2 separate regions of the Homo sapiens genome follow, and region 1 is linked to region 2. The links come from fine-mapping of genetic effects on gene expression. Tissue or cell type: tibial artery. Region 2 holds a variant in brackets; the other region holds the start of a gene. All regions are shown on one strand. Distances are between the middles of the regions. Region 1 holds the start of SLC13A4 (solute carrier family 13 member 4). Region 2 holds the start of LOC105375521 (a long non-coding RNA gene).

What was found. PIP is the estimated chance that this variant, and not a neighbour inherited with it, causes the effect. A credible set is the group of variants that fine-mapping cannot tell apart.
Region 1: SLC13A4 starts here. The variant in region 2 is the best candidate, but not a certain one, in a credible set for the expression of SLC13A4 in tibial artery (GTEx, PIP 0.55).

The regions. Positions count from the first base shown.
Region 1 is chr7:135,722,788-135,733,989 of GRCh38, forward strand. It overlaps SLC13A4 (solute carrier family 13 member 4), which reads right to left and starts at 5,399. Exons shown (of 16, transcript NM_001318192.2): 1 at 4,611-5,399. The coding sequence starts at 4,709. FAM180A (family with sequence similarity 180 member A) reads right to left here. Exons shown (of 4, transcript NM_205855.4): 3 at 10,859-11,202; 4 at 6,805-7,494. The coding sequence ends at 11,188.
Region 2 is chr7:135,682,160-135,693,361 of GRCh38, forward strand. It overlaps SLC13A4 (solute carrier family 13 member 4), which reads right to left. Exons shown (of 16, transcript NM_001318192.2): 11 at 10,164-10,265; 12 at 9,389-9,486; 13 at 9,042-9,166; 14 at 3,363-3,524; 15 at 1,965-2,102. It overlaps LOC105375521 (a long non-coding RNA gene), which reads left to right and starts at 4,852. Exons shown (of 5, transcript XR_928021.3): 1 at 4,852-5,163; 2 at 6,745-6,869; 3 at 9,412-9,599. The variant C/CAT (reference allele first, on the strand shown) is at 5,617.

The DNA.
Region 1 (11,202 bases), 41 kb after region 2:
GAATCCTTCTCCCAAAGGCCCCTGTAAGAGTTAATAAGGAGCTCCCTTCCCTGGGAGAGGGAAGGGAAGACTGAAGAGGAAGGCAGCGATCCTGAGCATGGAACTCTCATTTTGGATGAAGAAGCATCAGCTCCTAACTCAGTGTTTGTCAACCTTCGTACTACTGACATTTAGGGCCACATAGTTTCTTCTTGCAGGGGGGCTGTCCTGTGCACTGTAAAAGAGCAGCATCCCTGGTCTCTACCCACTAAATGCCGGTAGCACTTCCTCCACTGTGACAAGCAAAAAACCATCTCTAGACATTGCCAAATGTCCCTTGGGGAGGTAAAATGATTCCTGGTTGAGAGCCACTGCCCTAACCAGGGTCTGGTTCTCGTTGCTCTTGGACTCCATTCTATCCGCTTGACACCATGGAAACATCCATCTACAAAGACTGAAGACAGCCATCTATCTGGAAGGGGAGGCCTGGACATTCACCAGCATTTTCCATAGCCCACTCACTTTGCTGGCTGGACAACCTAGGGGTGCACAGGGTAATTAAGTACAACATTCTTATCAGAAGCCAGCCCTCCATCAGCTTGCCCTCTAGTTGTGTTGATTGCCCTGAATTATGCTGATGAACGCTGTTAAGACAGGTTACCGCCTTACTCTAGGGAGAGGCTGCAGTTCATGGGCCTTGTTAATGGTAACATCACCAAGCTCCGTGACTCAGAAGAGCATTTATAGAAAATCCAAGTTGGCTGTGGGATCCTCAATTTTTACATAGTTGTAAACCATCAGGACTCGTGTCTGATTTGCCCTGAGGCTGGCTGCTGATCAAGGAACCTGACAAATCTTGCTGTTTATGGCCCCTTGAGTTCAGAACACGCGTCCTCAAACTCTTGCATAAAAGTTACAAAAGGTCGCTGTATCAGTAAGGGGCAGCAGGAGTGATTAAATCAGCTGGGCTGGCAAGGACCTTGTGCCCTCCTGACATTCGTGGATTATGGGATTGGGGTTTGAGAAATGGGAACTGGGCCCAAAAGTTGACTGTAGCTCCCCACTGAGATGTTCTCTGGGGCCAAAAGATCAGAGGGAAGATAAAACTTTTGGAAGTGCTGATAAGACAACAGAACCAATGGTGGAAAAAAAAAGAGGCTCCACTTGGAAACAAATTCAATTTAGAGAAATACCCTGTTTGCTATAGAAATAAAACTACCTAAAGGAGTTCAAACCCACGTGTTCTCATCTCTCTTCTGGGAAAGAGACAGAGTGGCAGATCTTAACTCCAGTTGAAGAGAAAGAGTTGAGAGACAAAATGTCTGCCCCTCACTGGGGACCCTTATTTCTTCCTGGAACCCTTAGTCTTTCTTGATCTGGTCATTACAGGGCTACAAGTTACAAGTTAAGGGGAAGGAGGTGGGGAGAGAAGGTGCAGAGAAAGGGAAAGGAGAAAGAGGAAAAGAGCCTGTAATCCCAGCACTATGGGAGGCCGAGGTGGGTGGATCAGTTGAGGTCAGGAGTTCGAGACCAGCCTGGCCAACATGGCGAAACCCTGTCTCTATTAAAAATACAAAAAATTCATCCAGGTGTGGTGGCACATGCCTGTAATCCTAGCTGCTCTGGAGGCTGAGGCAGGAGAATCCCTTGAACCCGGGAGGCAGAGGTTGCAGTGAGCCAAGGTTGTGCCACTGCACTCCAGAGCCTGAGTGACAGAGTGAGACTCTGTCTCAGAAAAAAAAAAAAAAAAAAAAAAGAAGAAAGGAGAGAGAGAGAAAGAAAGAGGACTTTCCCTCTGCCAGGTGCCTTTAGTTTTCAATTAGGAGAATGTGGGTAAAATAAAGCAAACATTTTGGTTGTAAATATTGTTAGACATGCGACTAGGTTACTGGAAGAAGTAAGTCATCAGGCCACCTTCACCCAGCTGTATTAAGGACAGGATTAATTACTATCATTTTTTACCTGGATTTTCCTTAGAGTAGAAGAATGGACAAGAGACACCTTTAGAGAGTCTTTCCATACAGTTTCCACTTATTTCACCCATGGAATCTCCATAAACTTCATTTTTCCCCTTCTAAAGCTTCCCAAAATTCAGGAGGTAAGCTTGTATTCAGACAACCAAAAATACTGCAAAGTTTGCTTACAAGGAGTCCGATGTCCCCAACGCCTATCCCATGTCTAGCAGGTGGTTCAATTCACGTGGGCTGAACTGCACTGGACTTCTCTGCTGGCTGTCAGGTCTCGCTCATCTTCTGGAGAGAATATTCTGCAACCCCCAGGCTCTTTAACAACACCACTGGTTCCTTATAATAGCAGGTATGTGGGGGTTGGGCATTGGTGAGTGTTCAGACAATATCTTCAAGGGACATGCTATCTACTATTTTTTGGCTCCCGTTTACAAGTAAAGGAAAGAGTTCGAAAGTGGCATTTCCCCATGTAGGACGTTTCCTAGTCAGCTACTCACTTAGGCGTGGAACTGCTCGTTTTCCACGCAGTTTGACCACCCCAGTGATATCCCACTCCAACTTCACGGGAAGGAGGTTGAAGTCTGTTATCTGTTATCATCAATGACTGGGGGCGCCTTTTAAAAAATTTAGCTTGGGCAGTTGAGATGCAACTTTTATCCCACTGGGGGCACTGAGGAAGGGCTTAGTTATGGATGCTGTCTCTTGTACCCTCTTCTTCTATAACATGATAAACAGTGTCTGGACCTCTAGTTTTAGAGAGTTGGGCAAGAAAAAGGGGGAAGGTCATTTTGACTCCTCCTAAAATGTAGCTGAGGCTTGTCGCTTAGAACCATCAAAACTGCAGGCCAGGAGCTCCTGCCCAGGTACTCCATCACTGCTCTCAACTCCAGTCCAGAGCAAGAAAATCCATTTGGAATTTTAAGGGTTAAATATCAGACTCTAAAAGTTTGATGCAGGCCAGGCACGGTGGCTCACACCTGTAATCTCAACACTTTGGGAGGATCACGTCAGACCATGAGTTTGAGACCAGCCTGGGCAACATAGTGAAACCCCCATTTCTACAAAAAAAATTTTTTTAAAAATTAGCTGCATGTGGTGGTACTTGCTTGCCTGTAGTCCCAGCTACTCCAGAGGCTGAGGCACGAGGATTGCTTAACCCCAGGAGCTCAAGGCTGCAGTGAGCTACGATTGTGCCACCGCACTCCGGACTGGGTGACAGAGTGAGACTCTGCGTCTACAAAAAAAAGTTTGATGAAAGGGGTGACGGATGGATGAAACTCTACCTGCTGGGCACCTAGTCTGTGCCTTCTGTGGGCAGTGGCCAAGGTCCCCAAAGATGGGGCTGCCTCAACCAGGAGATATGAGAGGTTCCTGATACTGCTTGGGAGAGGAGGCTAGTATGTCTCTCGGTAACAGTCCCTTATAGCAACCTACATGGAGAAAAAACAAAAACAAGAAAAGCCACAAAAAGAAAAAAAATCAGGCCCATTTGGACAAAGCAGAAAATTGACTAGGGTACAGTCCAGGAAGAATGTCAGCAGCAATCACTGTCTGCTAATCCCAGCCCAGTTTTAATCAGCGTCTCCCTGGCACTCTGGAGTATTTATTCTATGAAAGATTTAAGCCAGTTTGTTTTTAAGAAGAACCATCCTAATCCCCTCTGTTTAACTGTTTAACTTAATCTTGGTTACCAAGTTACTTAAGGAGCAGAGTGGAAGAATTGCTCCCCCTCCTACAAACGTGATTAACCTGTTTTAGCTTATTTTTCCTAAAGTCTCCAGGGCAGTGCCAGCTGGGGGAAGGGGACAAGCCACAGACAGGAGGAAGAGAACAGCGGAGGGAAGGGAAGGGAAGCAGGTGACCACCAGGAGGGTGTGACAGGCAAGCTGGATGCTGAGCCAGAGCTGAGGTTCCTCTGTTCTCACAAACCAGGTGAAGAATGAGGTCACGGGCTAGAGTTTGGGGGCTCTTATCTCTTTTTTATCGTGTCACTTTTTGTCTGTCCTTCAAGAGGACAGAGAAGAAAACACAGAAGACACAAATAATTCAAGGCCACGTGCATGGGAGCAGGGCAGCCTGCTAAGTTCTGCTTTCATTCCTTCCCTAAACATTCATTCCCTGAAGTTGATAGGCGCCTTCGGGATTAGAGCTTCAACTGTGGTCATCGAAGCCCACCAGGACACGACCACAGACCACGGATTGGCTCCACGGTTCTCTTCCTCCCCCAACCTTCTCCTCAGTGCCACTATTGGGAGCTCTTTCTGTGTCTCCAGGGGCTCTCAGATAACCAGGGTCCCAGGTGAACTCCCGACAAACACAGGTGCACCATGTCGTTTGCATGGGTGTCGCTGGCCCCCGCTGCTGGGGCAGGCTGGCCTGCTGCTTGGTGCAACACCCATCAGTCACTTCTGCCAAGGCCCCTACTCTGTCCTGACCCCGGTGGGGGCCATGGGGTTGGGGGAATGGGACTGGGATAGGAGATGAACATGACAGCTTTTAGGAAGAAGATATCTTGGTTTCCTCTGGAAAAATCCTTCCATTTCTTTAAACCCACCACAAGCCACTTTGAGGGACTGCCTGAGCGCCCCATGTTCCCCTACCGACCTCCCCTCTTTGCCCTCCCACTGACTCCCAGACCCCCGGTGGGCGCAGGTCGGTACTCACGCTGCTGGGGTGGAGGACGGGCAGAGGCAGCAGCAGGAGCGGGACGCAGACGACCAGCAGCAGCTTCCGGACTCGGAGCAGGCCCTGCAGCAGGCCCATCGCGCCTCTGTCCTCTCCAGCTCGTCCTTGGACCCCGCTCTGCCGGCGAAAGGCTTCCTGCCTGGGCACTGCTCTCTATCCAGAAAGACTTCTTAAACCTTTCTTGGCTTCCGAGAGTCCTCCTTCGTCTTGGGGGCAGAACGGGAGGGCAGTTATACCCTCGCTGTTTCTACAAGAGGCTGGGCTCCTGGCCTCCTGCTTTAGGTGGGATTGATGAGCATCGTTTTGTGACCAGCAAAAAGGAACTGGGAAAGGATGATAAACGGGGGCATAGTGGGCCTCCTCTCGGCTTGATTAGTAATAGAGTAACTTCATTCTAGGTGTCAGCAGAAACCCCCTTAATCCTTTAAGCCACACCTTTGCTGCTGCTGCTCGGCCTTGAAGAAATCATTTAAAAGCTTAAAAACATTAAAAACGCTCAGAGCACATTGTGCTCTCCATCAGTTTTCCTCCCTCGGATGACCTATTTTGGGGAGTACCTGTTTCATCTCCCACCTGGGCTCGCTGTTGGTAAGACTCTAGTAGCCCCTTTCCTTAAAACAAGCACCTGAGCTTGTCAGAGTTGCATGCGGACTTCAGGTGGGGCTGCTGGTCGCTCCCAGGACGTGGTACCTTAACTCTGTTCACATGTCTTTCCCTCAAATTGGTTCCCTACTTATAATTTGCCTTGAGCCTGGGCCTGCAAAGCAGAAAAGAAAAGTCCCCAAGACATTCCTTTTTATCAAAGGACAAAACTTGCTGGAGGCCCACCTTTAACTTTCATCCACCAATGGGAAGCCGGGACAGAGACAGTAGCTCCGCCCACTTCTCAAAGCCAATCAGCAAATTGAAAAGAATGAGTCAATTTCTCTCCCCGCGGCCGCTCTTGATTGGTCACAGCGGGGGCCTGCTGATTCCGCAGAACCTAGGCAGCCTGCTAAGCTTATTTTTCAGTTTCTCAAACTTCCTAGGGCTGGAGTGATGACCATCATCGTAAACATAATCTCACGTACCCAAGCACAGCTTTATTGTTTCGGATCATAGGACACAGAGCTTTCGCTGGGAGGGCCACCTGCTGATCTAGACCTTGGGAAGGGAATGTGCCTGGTGGCAGGGAGAAAATGCAACATTACTTCTGGAGAATTTGCCTCAGAGTGTACAAAGTTAAGCCTTTCAGACCTCCCTGCTGGCAAAGATCGTTTGCCTCAGCACCGAGGGGGGAATATAAAGGGTCTAGGCCAGCAGAGGGTATGAGCTCGTGAGAAAGACCCCAGATCTTTTGGGAAGTATAGCTGCCTCCCTGGCAAAGTCTAGATGCCAGTCTCATGCCCAGATGTCAGTGGTCTCTCTGGCTAAAGTAGGTGCTCAAATGCTTCTCTCTGGGGCTCTCCAAAAAGGAAACCGAAGACCTTCTTTGGCTGGTACGAAAGGAGGAGGTGGGAGGGCAGGGAAGAAGTTGACAAGTTCAGGGACAAGGTCTTAGCTGCAGTTGAACTCTGGAATTTCTCCTGTTTACAGATTGGAAGAAGTTGTTAGCTTCTTTTCTCAGAACGGACATGTGGATTTGGGGCAAGGAAGAAAAGCAAAAGCAAAAGCCCAAACATTCTGTAAGTAGTGGTTCTTGGCAACATTACCTTACCTTGATCTGGGAGATGCTGAGCAGAGTCAAAGGGTTATAAAACCCATGTTGTCTTGAATTCACAGAACACAGGAATGGCGTTCGAAGATCTGCAACTATACTACTTGGAAATGATCCCCAGGCTAAAGTGACCAGGGAAGTGACCCAAAAAACAAATTCTTCTTGACTTTTAAGGCAGGTGCAACTGTGGACAGCTGAGGTCCCCTTTGAAATTATCTTGCCATCGTAGGATGGGCTAGGATGACTCAACTCTTTAAATGCATGTTAAAGACTGGCTACTGTATTTACTACATTCTGGCCTCATTTTTTTTTGGTTATGATTTTGAAACTCAGAATGAACAATACCACGTGTGTGATGTTTTGGTCGCAAACATTAAAGACAGCGAATAATTATAAGCAGCTGTGGAAGTCAACATCCACTGTTAAACCCATGAACCATTCCAAATTCCTCGGTGAGATACTCTGAGATAACAAAGATTCCAGTGAGCAACTCAATCATGACATCTTTATTATACCATAGATGAATATTTGTTAAATAAAAATAGGTACAGCAAGTGTACAATAAGACCAGTAGTTCTCCTTCAGAACTCTACCCATTTTTCAGAGGAAGGAAACACTTTTCCAGAATACAATGCTCAAGAAATGTAAGCCAGATCCCGCTTGTATGAGGTATCTTAAGTAGTCAGACTCTCAAAAACAGAAAGCAGAATAATGGTGCCAAGAGCTGGGGCAGGCAGGGGGAAGGGGAAAAGAGGAGTTGTTCGGTGGGTATAGAACTTCAGAATTACAAGATGAGAAAGTTCCGGGGGTCTGTTTCACAACATGCATGGAGTTAACACTGCTGTACCATATGCTTAAAAATGGTTAAGATGGTACATTTTACCTGATGTGTTTTTTACCACAATAAAAAAAATAAGATTGAAATGGATTAGGAAAGTAAGGGGTGTTGTAAAAAGTCATTTAACAAGCATTTGATTTTAGACCATTGGACCTGCAGAAATACTTTGATTTGTTAGATTCAAGGTGAGGTGACAGAGCAATGAAGTCTGCAGCAGTTAAATGTCTGTTGATGTCTCTTGAGTGACATTGGAGATAGCTGTGAGGATGCCAACGATGGAGGAAACTTAGAAAGTTTTTAGATCCTGGGCCAGGCACGGTGGCTCACGCCTGTAATCCTAGCATTTTGGGAGGCTGAGGCAGGTGGACCACTTGAGGTCAGGAGTTTGAGACCAGCCTGGCCAACATGGTGAAACCCCATCTCTGCTAAAAATACAAAAAAATTAGCAGGGCATGGTGACGTGTGCCTGTGGTCCCAGCTACTTGGGAGGCTGAGGTGGGAGAATCGTTTGAACACTGTAGGCGGAGGTGCCACTGCACTCCAGCCTGGGTGACAGAGCGAGACTGTCCCAAAAACAAACAAACAAAAACAAAACAAAAAAACCCACAAAGTTTTTAGATCCTAAAATTTGTCAGCAGAAATGGTTACATAAGTCATGGGCAAGTTTCCACCACAAACATCACACTCCCATATTATTCTAATAGTAATTATAACCAAATGTGACCCCTTCGTGACTGTAGTTGTATAGAGTGTGGCACTAATGAGGCAAAATAGGAGACCCTGTTTGTCTGTCTAGTCTACATTTCTACTACTCCTTGGGCAAAGAATAGGGTTTTTTGGCTGCTGGTGGTGATCATAATATTTGATTCTGCATGTCAGTGAAATCATTGTCATAAAACTCTCTGTGGGTAAACAATGATCTGCATTCAGATTAAAATAGTTTTTAAGACTCTAGTTACTGAAAATGAGTCTTCATTTGTCTTTAAAAAGGTCATGTCCTTCTTTTTTCTATTTTTTTTTCAGTCATTGATTGCCACAAAAATTCAAGCCCCAATTTGTGTTTAATTTTTTTGTTGCTGGGTGAATGTTCCTGGGAACCATCTTCCCATTCATGGATTTCTTACTACTGGGAGCAGCCATCTACATAACATGGTGGTCAGGGACTACAAGGGTGGGCCTTTCCATCTGATGATTCTGAGTACAAGAAAGCTTTCAGATCCATTGTCAAGGGAGTGGAGCCTCGGGGCGGGATACAAGACTGACTATCAGGGTATTGCACAGTGTCTAGGGACTGAGGCCATTGCTAATCCACTCCCCATCTGACATCTAGGAAAAGTACAAACTGTGAAGATAGGCTACCATGTTTATCTGCCTCTGGCCGATCCCAACGCTGTCTGTACACTGACTTGTGTTTTACTTAGACAATGATACCCAGAGAAGACTGACAGACAGTGAGTGTTAGAGTGTGGGTCAGCAGAGATAGAGCAAAAGTCAAGCAGAAGAGTCTTGGAGATGCATCAAAAAACAGATACAGAGATATTTGGAATTGGGCCCAAATATACAGCAGCAGAGATACCAACTAAAATAAAAGAAAGAAAGACAGAGACAAGCAGAGTGACCATGTCAGAGAGAATATGTACATTTAGAAAAAGAAAGATTGAACAAAAAAAGCATATATCAGAATCTGCATTTGGAGGAGGTAAAAGAGCAGAATGGTCAGGGAATGAGAAAGAGAAACTGAGACTTACTAATCTTCTGAGCCTGAGAATATCAGGATGCAAAGCTGTGTTTTTCTCTGATGATGAATACCTTCTTCCAGTGTCCTAGTATTTCTCCAAAAAGATCATGCGGCTAGCACTGCTATGCAAAGCTTATTTGCTCAAAGATTTTGAAGGAGTCCAGACCTCATCATTATCAAATGACAACTGTTAAATACCCATTTCAGAATCAAATTTAGCCCAATAAATCCTCACTCATTCAAAGATCAGACTTGTTGCAGCTTTTGCTTGCTGAGCTCAGCTGTAAACTTAGGAGAAGACAGAAAGATCTCTGAGCTAATGAGGAATCCTTATTAGGACCCAGACGCTCGACCCCTAGCAGAGGACTTCATCTATTAACTCTTATTTAACATAGAATTATAACAAACCTGGCTATCGTAGTTTGTAGGCAATGGCCAGCTAAGAAAGAACAGACTGTGAAGGGCAAGTTACATTGGTAACAAAGAAAAATATGCTCTAATAGCCTGACAGTGAGGGAGGCAGCAGGGAAACTCAGAACTGAACACAGAATGAGCAGTCTGGGACCTCTCAGGGTTGGTACAAACAGTTGAGCTGACTTCTTAGATCCAGGTGCTCTCCTTGTGGCATCTCACAGTTAAAGGATTGTAGGAACTTCATAGGTAGAAGTCTTAGAGATTATCTTATCCAACTCCTTCATTAGAATGTTTAAATGATGACATGGTCGGGCGCAATGGCTCTCGCCTATAATCCCAACACTTTGGGAGCCTGAGGCGGGTGGATCACTTGAGGCCAGAAGTTTGAGACCAGCCTGGCCAACATGGCGAAAAACTGTCTCTACTAAAAATACAAAAATTAGCCAGGTGTGGTGGTGCGCGCCTATAGTCCCAGCTACTCGGGAGGCTGAAGCAGGAGAATCGCTTGAACCCGGGAGGCAGACACTGCAGCGAGCCGAGATAGTGCCACTGCACTCCAGCCAGGATGGCAGAGCGAGACTCCATCACACACACACACACACACACACACACACACACACACACACACACACACACAAGAATGTTTGAATGATGATCTTACACTAAACAAAAGCTTAAGGTGATTTGTATATATAGTTTAAAAAGATATCGAGTCAATATCTATAAAAGGAAAGTTTTGGCATTTGAAAGGGTAGAATTCTGTCATCTGAAAATCATTTTTATTTGGAGCATTTAGTTGTCTGATGATGCTAAATTATTTTTGCATGAAGACAGACAGGCACGGGCCTACATGCCACCTTGTTCGTTGGGAGACTCTTTGTGCATTAGCTTGGTTTTTCTATTCAAAGACAAGGAATGGCTGGACTGGGCTGTGGGCCCCTTCCTGTTTCTCTTCTGTGTTATGCCAGCTTTCAGAAAAGAAGAGTTCAGACATAAAGGTCATAAAATTACTGATTTTCTAATGGATTATTCTTGGCAACTTTTGGAAAAGTCAAGAAGTATATCCTTGGCAAATAATATATTTATTTGGGTATAGCTCTAATTTCTTTATATTTACTGTAGAACCTCTGGAAAAATGTTCATTCAACCCAGCACCCTAGTCCCTTAGGACCGAAGGAATCTGTCCCCCATCTTCCTGCCATGATGTCTCTTCTAGCTCATTCCTCACTCTTTTTTAAATTTATTTTTATTTTTATTTTTGAGACAGAATCTCGCTCTGTTCCCCAGGCTGGAGTGCAGTGGCACAATCTCAGCTCACTGCAACCTCTACCTCCTGGGTTCAGCTGGTTCTCCTGCCTCAGCCTACTGAGTAGCCAGGATTACAGGTGTGCGCCACCACGTCCGGCTGATTTTTGTGATTTTAGTAGAGATGGGTTTTCACTGTGTTGCCCAGGCTGGTCTTGAACTCCTGACCTCAAATAATCCTCCTGTCTCAGCCTCCTAAAGTGCTGGGATTACAGGCGTGAGCCTCTGTGCCCGGCCTGTTCTCACTCTTGAGTGTGTGGCCACTGCTCTGGGTTGAAGCATATCAGAATTCTGCCTGCCATAGGCAAACCATTCTGCCCATGGAGGCGTCTTGAATGACCATTCCAGCCCTTTCTTCCAGCCCAGGTCACATGATGGCATGAATCAGATGTGTCTTCCAGGAAACTACAAGGAGAAAAGAGCATCGGGGTTACTGTTTGATCTCTGCTGCTCTGTGTCAGCGGTAAGAGTTTTGTTGCTGGTCTCTGTAAATGGAGTAGAGAATGAAGACTTTCTGGATTACTGTGCTGGTCCCTGCTCTGAGGTCCTGGTGTGGGCCAGTCTCTCAGGGAGGTACTCC
Region 2 (11,202 bases):
AATAGTGTACCTTGAGTTCACTTGGGGAAACGGTTTAGCTGCCTCTGCTCAGCTCTTCCTCAAGAAGGGGACACAGGCATGCTAGCTGGAATGGAGCCTTTGCTTCTTTCCTCTGAGGGAATTACACCTCAGTGACTGACCCTTTTCACTTCTGCCTTGACATTGACACCCACAGGCTGAAGTGGGGGATGTGAGAGATGGTGGGCTGGCAGAGCCAGATGGAAAAATGTGTCCTGTAAGGATAGCTGGCATCTTCCCAAGGAGTAACCAGGCATATAGCATGTAGCCAAGACAAGTCACTAGCTGGCATTAAGTTGGGAAAATTGCAAGGGGAAAGTGGATGCTGGGAAATTGTTTCAAGCAAATGGCTAGACGTGTCCTCTCTCTCCTGCCGTCTGGTCGGGGCCCCCTGGGCATTTTGGCATGGAGGACAGCCCATGTTTCCCCACAGGTGAGAGGGCAGGTTCTAGCAGGGCTAAATTAAGGAGTGTTAGAGTTGAAAGGGACCCCATGGAGCATCCAGCTGGAACCTCATCATTTAGCAGATGAGGAAATTGAAGTCAAGGTAGTGCCCAAGCTGGGAATAGTGCCCAAGACTGGCTCACTTCTTGTCACCTGGTACCTTTGAAAATTACTGCCTCTGATCATTTGATTCCAGTGTAGAAAGCTAGGGGTCAGTGGTGGGGGCACACAGCAGAGGAAGCGGGAGACAGGAGAGCTGGGGTAGAGCTCAGCGTGAGCAGACTGAGGGTTACGCAGTAAGATGGGAGGGGAGAGGGATGGCTGGGACACTCCATTCAAGGAAGTATCACGGATGACTTAGATGAGCAGTTCGAACAGTCGAAAGGACCTGAATAGGCTGAGAGCAGTGACTCACACCTGTAATGCCAGCACTTTGGGAGGCCAAGGCAGGCAGATCATCTGAAGCCAGTAGTTCAAGACCAGCCTGACCAACATGGTGAAACCCCATCTCTACTAAAAATACAAAAATTAGCTGGGCATGGAGGCGCACACCTGTAGTCCAAGGTACTCTGGAGGTTGAGGCATGAGAATCACTTGAACCTGGGAGGCAGAGGTTGCAGTGAGCCGAGATCGCACCACTGAACTCCAGCCTGGGTGAGAGTGAGATTCTGTCTCAAAAAAAAAAAAAAAAAAAAAAAAAAAAGGATAAAAAAGGACCTGAATATCTGCCACCAGCCTGAAACTTTTTCTTCCTTTCCTCTATTTGTTACTTTACAGGGCTGCCCGAGAACAAATTTGGCTCCCATGAAAAAAAATTGTCAGACCATCAGTAATTCGTATCAGTGTTTTCCATCCTCTCCCCCCCCGCTCAGCCCTGGATACTAAGTATAGCAGCAGGTGTATAGGTAGAGGAGTAGAAGGTAGATAGGCCCAGTGCTAAAGTCAGCAGCAAAATATCTCAAAGCCATCTTTTGTGAGCCCAGCTGAAAATGAAAATGAATGGTGGACGCTTCATTTTCCATTGTTGCTTCAGGGGTTTCTTGCCTGGGCCGGGGTGGAGGGTGAGTTGAGCAGAAGAATCCTGTTTTCTCAAAATACCTTTCACCCTAGGTTCATACACTTCCTCATTCTCATCTTCTGTGAATAAACCAGTAGCTTTCTCAATGAATGTCTCCACTGGCCTAATGAAGAAACGAAGGCAAAACTTGTTTGCACAGGCTCATGCCTTCTGGAACTGGGCCACAGCCTGTCTGTTCCAGCTTTCTCTACCTAGGTACCCACTTCCTTCCAGGGAAGGGTTGGGGAGAGCACATTCTTGCTATCCTTGGTGCTTATAGACCAACAAAAACCTTTTTATAGGTGCTATTCTTGCTACCACACTGGGTTTAGCATTGACAGGCCAGGGACACTGCTACAAAATAAGCTTTGAAAGAAGGCTGCAGAGCTGTCATCCCTGTCCTCATGGCAGCTGGGCCTGGCAGGGAGAGGGCACCCCAACTCACCATATCTTTGATCTGGCAGTGCCCATAGCTGAAGACGATGGCATTAGGGGGATTGCCCACAGGCAGCATCACTGCAAAGGAGATGCACATGGTGACTGGGATCAGGGTGTAGAGGGGGTTAATGTGCAGCGTTTCAGACTAGAAGAGAGAATTCACAGAAACATTCACGAGATTAGGCTTGCATTTCCTGTGCTTAATGTCAGGAGCATGCTTTAATGATGACTTGGTGCTGGCTAACCTTAGCAGGACACTATGTGGAGGGGTAGTTAGGTCTCTGCCCTCTGGGGCATGCAGTCCCTTGACAACCTGAATAGGCTGATGCTGCTTACTTGCTCCACATGGAAATATGGCTTTGAGTTACTCCCTAGAAGGGATGTTTGATTTTTTTGGTGTTATTCTAAGGAATTGGTTCCTAAACTTTATTCTTTAGCTGAGACTTCCTTTCCTTAAACTCAAATCTCATGAATAGGTTGCTTTGATTGAAGTGGGGATTCCTCAGTCTTAGGGTACAGAACTAAGGTGGTTTTTTTTTTTTTTTTTTCCTAGGGAAGATAATTGTTTTATATGGGATTTGAATCCATGGTCCTGCTCTCAATGTTGCCAAGTTTTAACTGCACTCTGTTGCTCGCAGGAGCAAGATGACGGAAGGGAGAAGTTGGGGTCATCTGAGCAATGAGCAGAGAGTATGGCTCTGGGGTTAGAAAGAGCAGTAGGAGACTATGTTGCTGGGGTCAGGAGGGGCCTTCATTTCCTGGATTCTGCCTCCCAGAATGGGACAGATGAAGCATTGGGTCAGATGCATCACCTTTCCGGCTGCTTGGCCAGGCTAAGATCTGGCCGTTGCTCCCCTCCCTTATTCTATTCACAACAAATTGGTCTGAGGTTGTGGAGCAAAGCTGACCTTGCTCCCAATCCTCAGAACTTCCCGGAGGACAGTGAAACTCAGTGGAGGCTGTGATGATTGTCTGAGTTGTGAGCTCAGTCTTTTCAGCTGTGTGTGTTTTACCTCCATTTTCTGTGGCTACCTCTTTGGCCCTACTCAGGTTTTATCTCAGGAGAGAAAGGTTGATAATGATTGCGGGGAATTGAAATGATAGGGTTTGAATATTATTTTGTATGTTCTTTGGTTTCCACTCAGGGCTGCCCCTAAACTAATCCTACTCTTTTGGACAAAGGTTTCTAGAACTCTTGCTATGATTTATTAGTGTATCTTTTTATTTACTAGTTGCTATTTGAAAAACTTCATTTTTCAAAATAGGAATTGAACACCAATTAGTGAAGGCTGTGGGCAGTAACCAGAGGAGAGCCTACAGCTACGGAAGCTGCCCTGAGCCAGGCCTGCCACTCCAGGCCCCTGGGACAGCCTGTCTGGATGTCTGGGAGCTCCGCATTACTCACCAGGCTGCACAGGATGGGCAGGAAGATGGTGATGGTTGCTGGGTTGCTCACAAACTCAGTGACAATGGACACGAGGATGCATGCCAGCAGGGTGACAGCCCACGGTGGGAGGCTGCTCAGGGACAACATCTGGTTCCCAATCCATGTAGAGAGGCCAGAGCTCTGTAGGAAGAGGTGTTACAGTAAGAAGAAAGGAGAAGAAGCACATCCCAGCTAGAGATCTTAGACTTCAGAAGGTCAGGGATGTTGGAAGGCTGGACGACCAGGGATCCTCTGATCTTTAGTCTGACTGGAACCAGAGGTGTTCCTGATTTTTATGGTTCGATCATTTTTGTAGTTCAGAAAATTGGTTTTTATGATTGCACAACATTCAGTGTTTGGGTTTCGTCATGGGACATGGAGAGCCACCCTAATTGCCATGATCCTTCTTAGGACTTTGCCATGACAACTTGTCAGAGGTTGGAGATCTTTGCTCCTCAACTTCAGTCTCGTTACCCTTTCTCTAGCCTCTGACATCCTTACCCTGTGCATTGATTCGACAATGCCCTTCACAGAGTGCCAAGTATAGCCATTTAATCTGCTTTTGAAACCAGTTTATTTTGTTACCTAAAAAAGGGAAAAATTTATCAACATCTGTGGATAGTAGCCTTTCCTGTGTTTTTAAGGAGATGAACAGGCAGGGCTGAGCACTGGAGGTTTTACAGGAGTAATAAAGTAGAGGGGGATAAAAGTCTATTTCCACTTAGTGGAGAAGGTGCCTCTTAAGTGCCATAGAGGCTGGTCATTCAGCCCCAACCTGTTTTAGGTTCAAATCTCATCATGGCTGACATTAGTTCTACTATCTGTCAGGAATTTTTTTTTAATTAAGAGGAGGGTCTTGCTCTATTGCCCAGGGTCCAGGATGAGTGCAGCAGCATGATCACAGCTCACTGCAGTCTCAACCTCCTGGGTTCAAGCAATCCTCCCACCTCAGCCTTCCAAGTAGCTGGGACCACAGGCACATACCATCACGCCCTGCTCTTTTTATTTGTAGAGACAGAGTCTTTCCATGTTGCCCAGGCCTGTCTCAAACAGACCTGGGCTTAAGCGATTCTCCCACGTTGGTCTCCCAAAGTGCTGGGATTATAGGTGTGAGCCACCGCACCTGGCCTGCCAGTGCTTTTTGAAGACACAGATATGAAGGCATATTGACCGTCCTGAATTTATTCCACTAGCAACAGTTACACACATCCACTTAAATAAATGAACATTCTGGCTGGGTGAGGTAGCTCACACCTGTAATACCAGCACTTTAGGAGGCTGAGGAAGGTAGGTCACTTGAAGTCAGGAGTTTGAGACCAGCCTGGCCAATGTGGTGAAAGCCCACCTTTACTAAAAATACAAAAATTAGCTAGGTGTGGTGGCACGCGCCTGTAATCCCAGCTATTCAGGAGGCAGAGGCAGGAGAATTGCTTGAACCCGGGAGGCAGAGGTTGCAGTGAACCGAGATTGTGCCATTGCACTCCAGCCTGGGTGACAGAGTGAGACTCTGTCTCAAAAAAATAAAAAATAAATGAATAAATATTCCCACTTGGAATGATTCATTTGGTTGGAAGATGTTCACCTGCAAATAGGGAGGGCTACCTCCCTCTCCTAAAAAATGAAAGGTATCATTGAGTTTTGTATTAAAAACTCCAGGTTGCCATATGCATCCTGCCTCCCTTCCTCTCTCTCTTCTATGGTGACAGGCTCTGCCTTTTCCCATGGTACCCTAGAAACTGCGAATGCAATGACAATATGGAGAGCAGGGACAGAAAGGAAGGTGAGACATTTATGATTCCTCAAGCTCTTAAGTCCTGCTACACATGTTTTACTATTAAATACCGCCTTCCCTACACTGCCAGCATGTTACTTTTTCTCCTCTCTTCCAAATTCATCAAAAGCTCATTTCATCTCTACAGTACCCTGGCCACCTCCTGGCAAGCTCATAGACAACTGAGGACCAAAGGCCTTCAGAATTCTCTCTGTTGTAGCCACTTCACCTTGTAGAACTTTTCTTCCTTTTTTTCCTCTCAACTCACTGAGAGCTTACAAACCCAATATGTGCAGACTGCATCAATTAATGCTTGTTTCAGAGCCCCAAGGCCTCCAGGAACTCTTTAATTGTTCCCTCTGGTAACACATTAAACCTTGCTCATTGGACAGAGGCAGGGGAGGAACAGCAGTTAGTTGAATGGAAATGGTACATTATATAAAGAGATGGAGTTTTACTTAA[C/CAT]GTTATCCAAATAGTACTGGTAAGTAAAGTGAAATAATTTTTTTTTTCTTTTTGAGACAGAGTTGTGCTCTGTCACCCAAGCTGGAGTGCAGTGGCACCATCTCAGCTCACTGCAACCTCTGCCTCCCGGGTCCAAATGATTCTCATGCCTCAGCCTCTTGGGTAGCTGGGATTACAGGCATGTGCCACCATCCCCGGCTAAATTTTTTTTTTTTTTTGAGAGGAAGTCTCACTCTGTCGCCCAGGCTGGAGTGCAGTGGTGCGATCTCGGCTCACCACAACCTCTGCCTCCCAGGTTCAAGCAATTCTCTGGCCTCAGCCTCCCAAGTAGCTGGGATTACAGGCGCGTGCCACCACACCCGGCTAATTTTTGTATTTTTAGTAGAGACGAGGTTTCACCATGTTGGCCAGGCTGGTCTCAAACTCCTGATCTCAGGTGATCCACCCACCTTGGCCTCCCCAAGTGCTGGGATTACAGGCATGATCCACTGTGCCCAGTCCCTGGAGTTTTGCTTTTGTCACCCAGGCTGGAATGCAGTGGCACGATCTCGGCTCACTGCAACCTCCTCCTCCTGGGTTCAAGTGATTCTCCTGCCTCAGCCTCCCAAGTAGCTGGGATTAAAAGTGTCCGCCACCACGCCTAACTAATTTTTGTATTTTTAGTAGAGACAACGTTTCACCATGTTGGCCAGGCTAGCCTCAAACTCCTGGCCTCAAGTGATCCTCCTGCCTCACCCTCCTTAAGTGCTGGGATTACAGGCGTGAGTCACCATGCCCGGCCTAGTAAAGTGAAATAATTTATTGGCAATTATTTTTCCAGCAGAACTATTTTATACTATGATTTGAAATAAATTAGACTTCAAAGTTAGACAAAAACACAATCAAAGGAAGTCTTAATTCTTTAAACTCTTGGTATGAAAACATTTTACAATGGATTTTCTTCACTAATGTCAAAACTGAAATTATTTCAAACTCTGTAGGAATCACATATATGCTACCTAAATTATTATTAAAATTAGTAGAGGCAGTAGGCTTTACAGAAATAACTGTACTATCTCTAATATGTGCACAATTTTGTTTTTATTGTTTTTTTTTTGTTTTTGTTCTTGTTTTTTGTTTTGGTGGCAGGGGATAGGGTCTCCCTCTGTCTCCCAGGCTGGAGTGCAATGGTGGGATCTTGGCTCACTGCAGCTTTGAACTCCTGGGCTCAAGCGATCCTCTCACTTCAACCTCCTGAGTAGCTGGGACTACAGGTACGCACCACCACACTGGGCTAACTTTTGTTTTTGTAGAGATAGGATCTTACTATGTTGCCCAGGCTAGTCTCAAACTCCTGGACTCAAGCAATCCTCCCGCCATGGCCTCCCAAAGTGCTGGGATTACAGACATGAGCCACTGTGCCCAGCCCAATTTTGGTTAAAAAAAAAAATAAAATCTTGCCAGGCCAATCTTGTCAGAGGCCAAAACTAACAACTGAAATTCAATAAAGATAAATATAAATATCCCGAACTTGGAATGAGAAATATTGATGGCATATATATAGGATGGGGTGAAGGTCCAGTAATGATGAACAGTTAAAAAGAATGAAGGGTTCTAATTGACTGCAGTTTTAATATAATTGTTGACATGAGTGCCAAGGATGCTTTATAAAAGCTTCCATAAAAATGCAGGGTGCTGCTTGAATCAGAGGTGAGAGATGGGGCTTGGGTAATATAACTACTCTACTTGGCAGTAGACTGACCACCCCATAGACTATGTTTGAATAAGGCCAAGTGTAGTGAGTCCTGAGGAGAGAGACCAGATGGTATGGGTCACTACTACTTGATTTTTTCATGTTAATAATTATTATCTAGGAGAGGGTCCCAGAGAACAGAGCTAGAGCCAACAGTGGACAGACAACATGCAGAAGACCTGAGCTGAAAATAAGGAACAATTATTCTTTGTTCCCTGCCCAGGGAGTACCTTGTCACTGGAAGTGTCCAAGCCAGAAGTGCCATGGAGGGGAATCTCACCATGGGCAGGAGATAGGACTCATTGTTTTCTAAGGTTCTCCTTAGTGGAGTATTCTGTGACCTTATTATTAATAATGCAGATAGTATTTTGGGCCATGAAAAGTGAACCAAGCCGGGCACAGTGGCTCATGCCTGTAATCCCAGTACTTTGGGAGGCCAAGGTGGGTGGATCACTTGAGGCCAGGAGTTCAAGACCAGCCTGGCCAACATGGTGAAACTCCATCTCTACTAAAAATACAAAAATTAAGCTGGGTGTGGTGGCGTGTGCTTGTGATCCCAGCTATTTGGGAGGCTGAGGCATGAGAATTGCTTGAACCTGGGAGGCAGGGGTTGCAGTGAGCAGAGATGGCGCCACTGCACTCCAGCCTAGGTGACAGAGTGAGACTCTGTCTCAAAAAAAAAAAAAAAAAAAAAAAAAAAGAGAACCAAGTTTAGCATGGGATAATGCATGTAGATGAGATGGAGGGAGAAATAGTCTGAACCTTAACCTAATTCATTCTTAAGATTGTTTTCTATTTTATGGAGGGCTAACACTTTAGGAAATTCAATCATCCCCTCACATCCCCACCCCACTTAAAAGATCTCATCCAAAATCCTCCCAGTCAGAAAATCAAGAAGCATTTACATCAGCTTTAGCCTAGATTTTCCAAAGGGGCTCAGTCTATGTATTGTGGACAGACAGTTCACCATGTGTCACTTGGAGCATCTCTGGTCCCTTACAGAGATCGCCTATTACCACTCCTATTACCTATTACCTATGTCTATCTCCTGTTACCATCTCCTATTGCCACTGTCAAATCCCAGAAGGAGATGGCTGCAAACTCCAATAAACCTTTTGCTTGTAGCAGCATGGGCCCCATAGATGAACTATCAATGCCCATGTGTCATGACTGTGTGGCACAGCCCATCTGTTCCTCTGTTCCTAGTAGCGCTGAGAAGCTTAGGGCAGCAGAGGACATCCATCCTGCTCTATTGTTTCCCTTCCCAGGGACTCTGTGAACATTCTCAGCTGCTTTGAGTCTTTCCTCCCATGCCCATAATGACTCATTAGGTAAAGATGCTGGAAAAGTATTTGACCCATAAGAACAGAATTCAAGCCGGGTGCAGTGGCTCATGCCTGTCATCCCAGCATTTTGGGAGGCCGAGGCAGGTGGATCACTTGAGGTCAGGAGTTTGAGACTAGCCTGGCCAACATGGTGAAACCGCGTCTCTACTAAAAATACAAAAACTAGCTGGCATCATGGTGCACGCCTGTAATCCCAGCTACTTGGGAGGCTGAGGCAAGAGAATCGCTTGAACCCAGGAGGCGGAGGTTGCAGTGAGCTGAGATTGTGCCACTGCACTCCAGCCTGGGTGACAGAGCAAGACTGTCTCAAAAAAAAAAACCCCAAAAAAACAGAATTCAAGAATTACCTTGCTACCAGAAGCCAGAGCATAGCCTCCCCCAACCAGAATGACAATCTCCCAGGGCATGGTCTTCTGGAAGTCCTTCCACGTGATGATGGGCTCGGTCCCCAGTGAGTGCTCCTGGTTCTCTCCTGGATTAGAGAGAGATGTAAAGCCAGATAAACCCTGATGGACGTGATTTGTGGAGACAGGAGCCTAATTGGTGAAGTGGATGATTTGGGATACTGCTATTTGGGGCGGGGGCCGGGAGGGGGGTGGGAATCTGAAGGACCTTGGTAAATCTCTTTGGGAGTATTAGTCTGATTTGGGTATTCTTCAACTAGAGCTACCCCCAGTTTCTTCCCTTCTCTCACCATCATTCTTTTTCCCAAAGCAGGGCTTCTTCGCTGGAATGAGGAAGAGGAGGAAGCCAAGGAAGACAGAGACTGTGGCATCAGTACGGTAGCCTTTCCTAGTAAAGAGACAAGCATAGCTGAGGAGAAGGGTCAGGAATTTTCAGGAGTAACATGATGTCTCGGAGCAGTCTGTCCGAACACAGTGCCTCTTTTTAGGACTTATCTAGAGGTAACATTAAGCTTAGTTCTTGCCAGTTGCTGCCACGCTATCCACTTTGGATTTAATGGGCAATGGCGAATGTCTGGAGGCAGGGCCTGGCTAGAGTAGATGTCTTAATGTGAATTTGTGAGCCCGTTAATTGGGGCAAGTCCTAGATGGAGTGATCAGGAGTGGAGTTGGTTAGATAAAGGAGAATAGAAGAGGATGAGACCTCTTTCCTATGAAGGCCACACCTCCATGTGCCTCCCTTCTCAAGTGAGAAGTTGATTTCTTCTTTACAGTTGGTACTTTATAGATGTTTCCTCCTTTAACTTTCATAACCACCTATGAGGTAACCAAGCTTCCAAGAGCTTATGTAATGAGACTACATGCAGCACTGGATTCCAACCCCAGACCGGGACTCCAAAGAGTGTTTTTCCTTCCTGATTTCACACTGCAGCCTCCCTAAAAAGAGTGGATTTCCTGGGGAATGAAATCTTCCTGGCTTCATATCTGCCCCTGAGAGTCTATGAAGTCTTGCCTGAAGAATTGGGGTGAGGGGGTTGTTCTTAAGGAGGAAATGATATCACTTACTTTTCAAAGAAAGAATCCCAGCCAGGGACAAAGCCAGGCTCCCGGGTAAACCACAGTACGGTCATCAGGATGAAGAAAAATCCAGTCACCATTTCTGGGTAGCTATAAAATAAAACAGAAAGACCCACTCAGGAACTGAGAAATTTCTCCTAGCTTTTTCACTTTGCTTCTGGAAGCTTCTGTATTTAGAGTTTCAATACCCTAGACATAAAACACACTCACTGCCTAACCACTATGAATGGCTGACAGTGAGATGAGGAGAAGACTGAGTGGCCCCAGAAAACATGACATTAACCATGTTCCTGGAGAAACTTCAGTAGAAAGGGCAAGAGAACACAGCACTGTACATTTGTAAAATAATTTCAAATACAGCCTACAAGGAGAGTGCAGTGAAATAGGCAGCCCCAAACACTGTGCTGGTGGGAGGAGGAATTGCTACAACCTTTTTGAGGCCATTTGATGATACACATTAGAAGCCTTAAAGTTGGTCATTCCCTGGCTGGGTGTGGTGGCCCACGCCCGTAATCCCAGCACTTTGGGAGGCCGAGGTGGGCGGATCATGAGGTCAGGAGATGGAGACCATCCTGGCTAACACAGTGAAACCCCATCTCTACTAAAAATGCAAAAAATTAGCTGGGCGTGGTGTCACGTGCCTGTAGTCCCAGTTACTCGGGAGGCTGAGGCAGGAGAATCGCTTGAACCCAGGAGGTGGAGGTTTCAGCGAGCCAAGATTGTGCCACTGCACTCCAGACTGGGCAAAAGGGTGAGACTCCATCCCAAAAAAAAAAAAAAAAAAAAAAAAATAGTTGGTCATTCCCATCATCTAACCAGAAATGCATACTGAGACATTAATTACCTATTAAAAAATGGAAGCATCCTCTATATCCAATGGTATTTCATGACACTGAATACATTTTGATACAACTCTGTGTTAAAATGAGATGCATCCATTGATAATCCCATTTCCACAGCAGAGTTAAGGATGTGGAACATACTGTACTGAGAGTACAAAGTTGAGTTGAGAAAGGCAAGGTATACA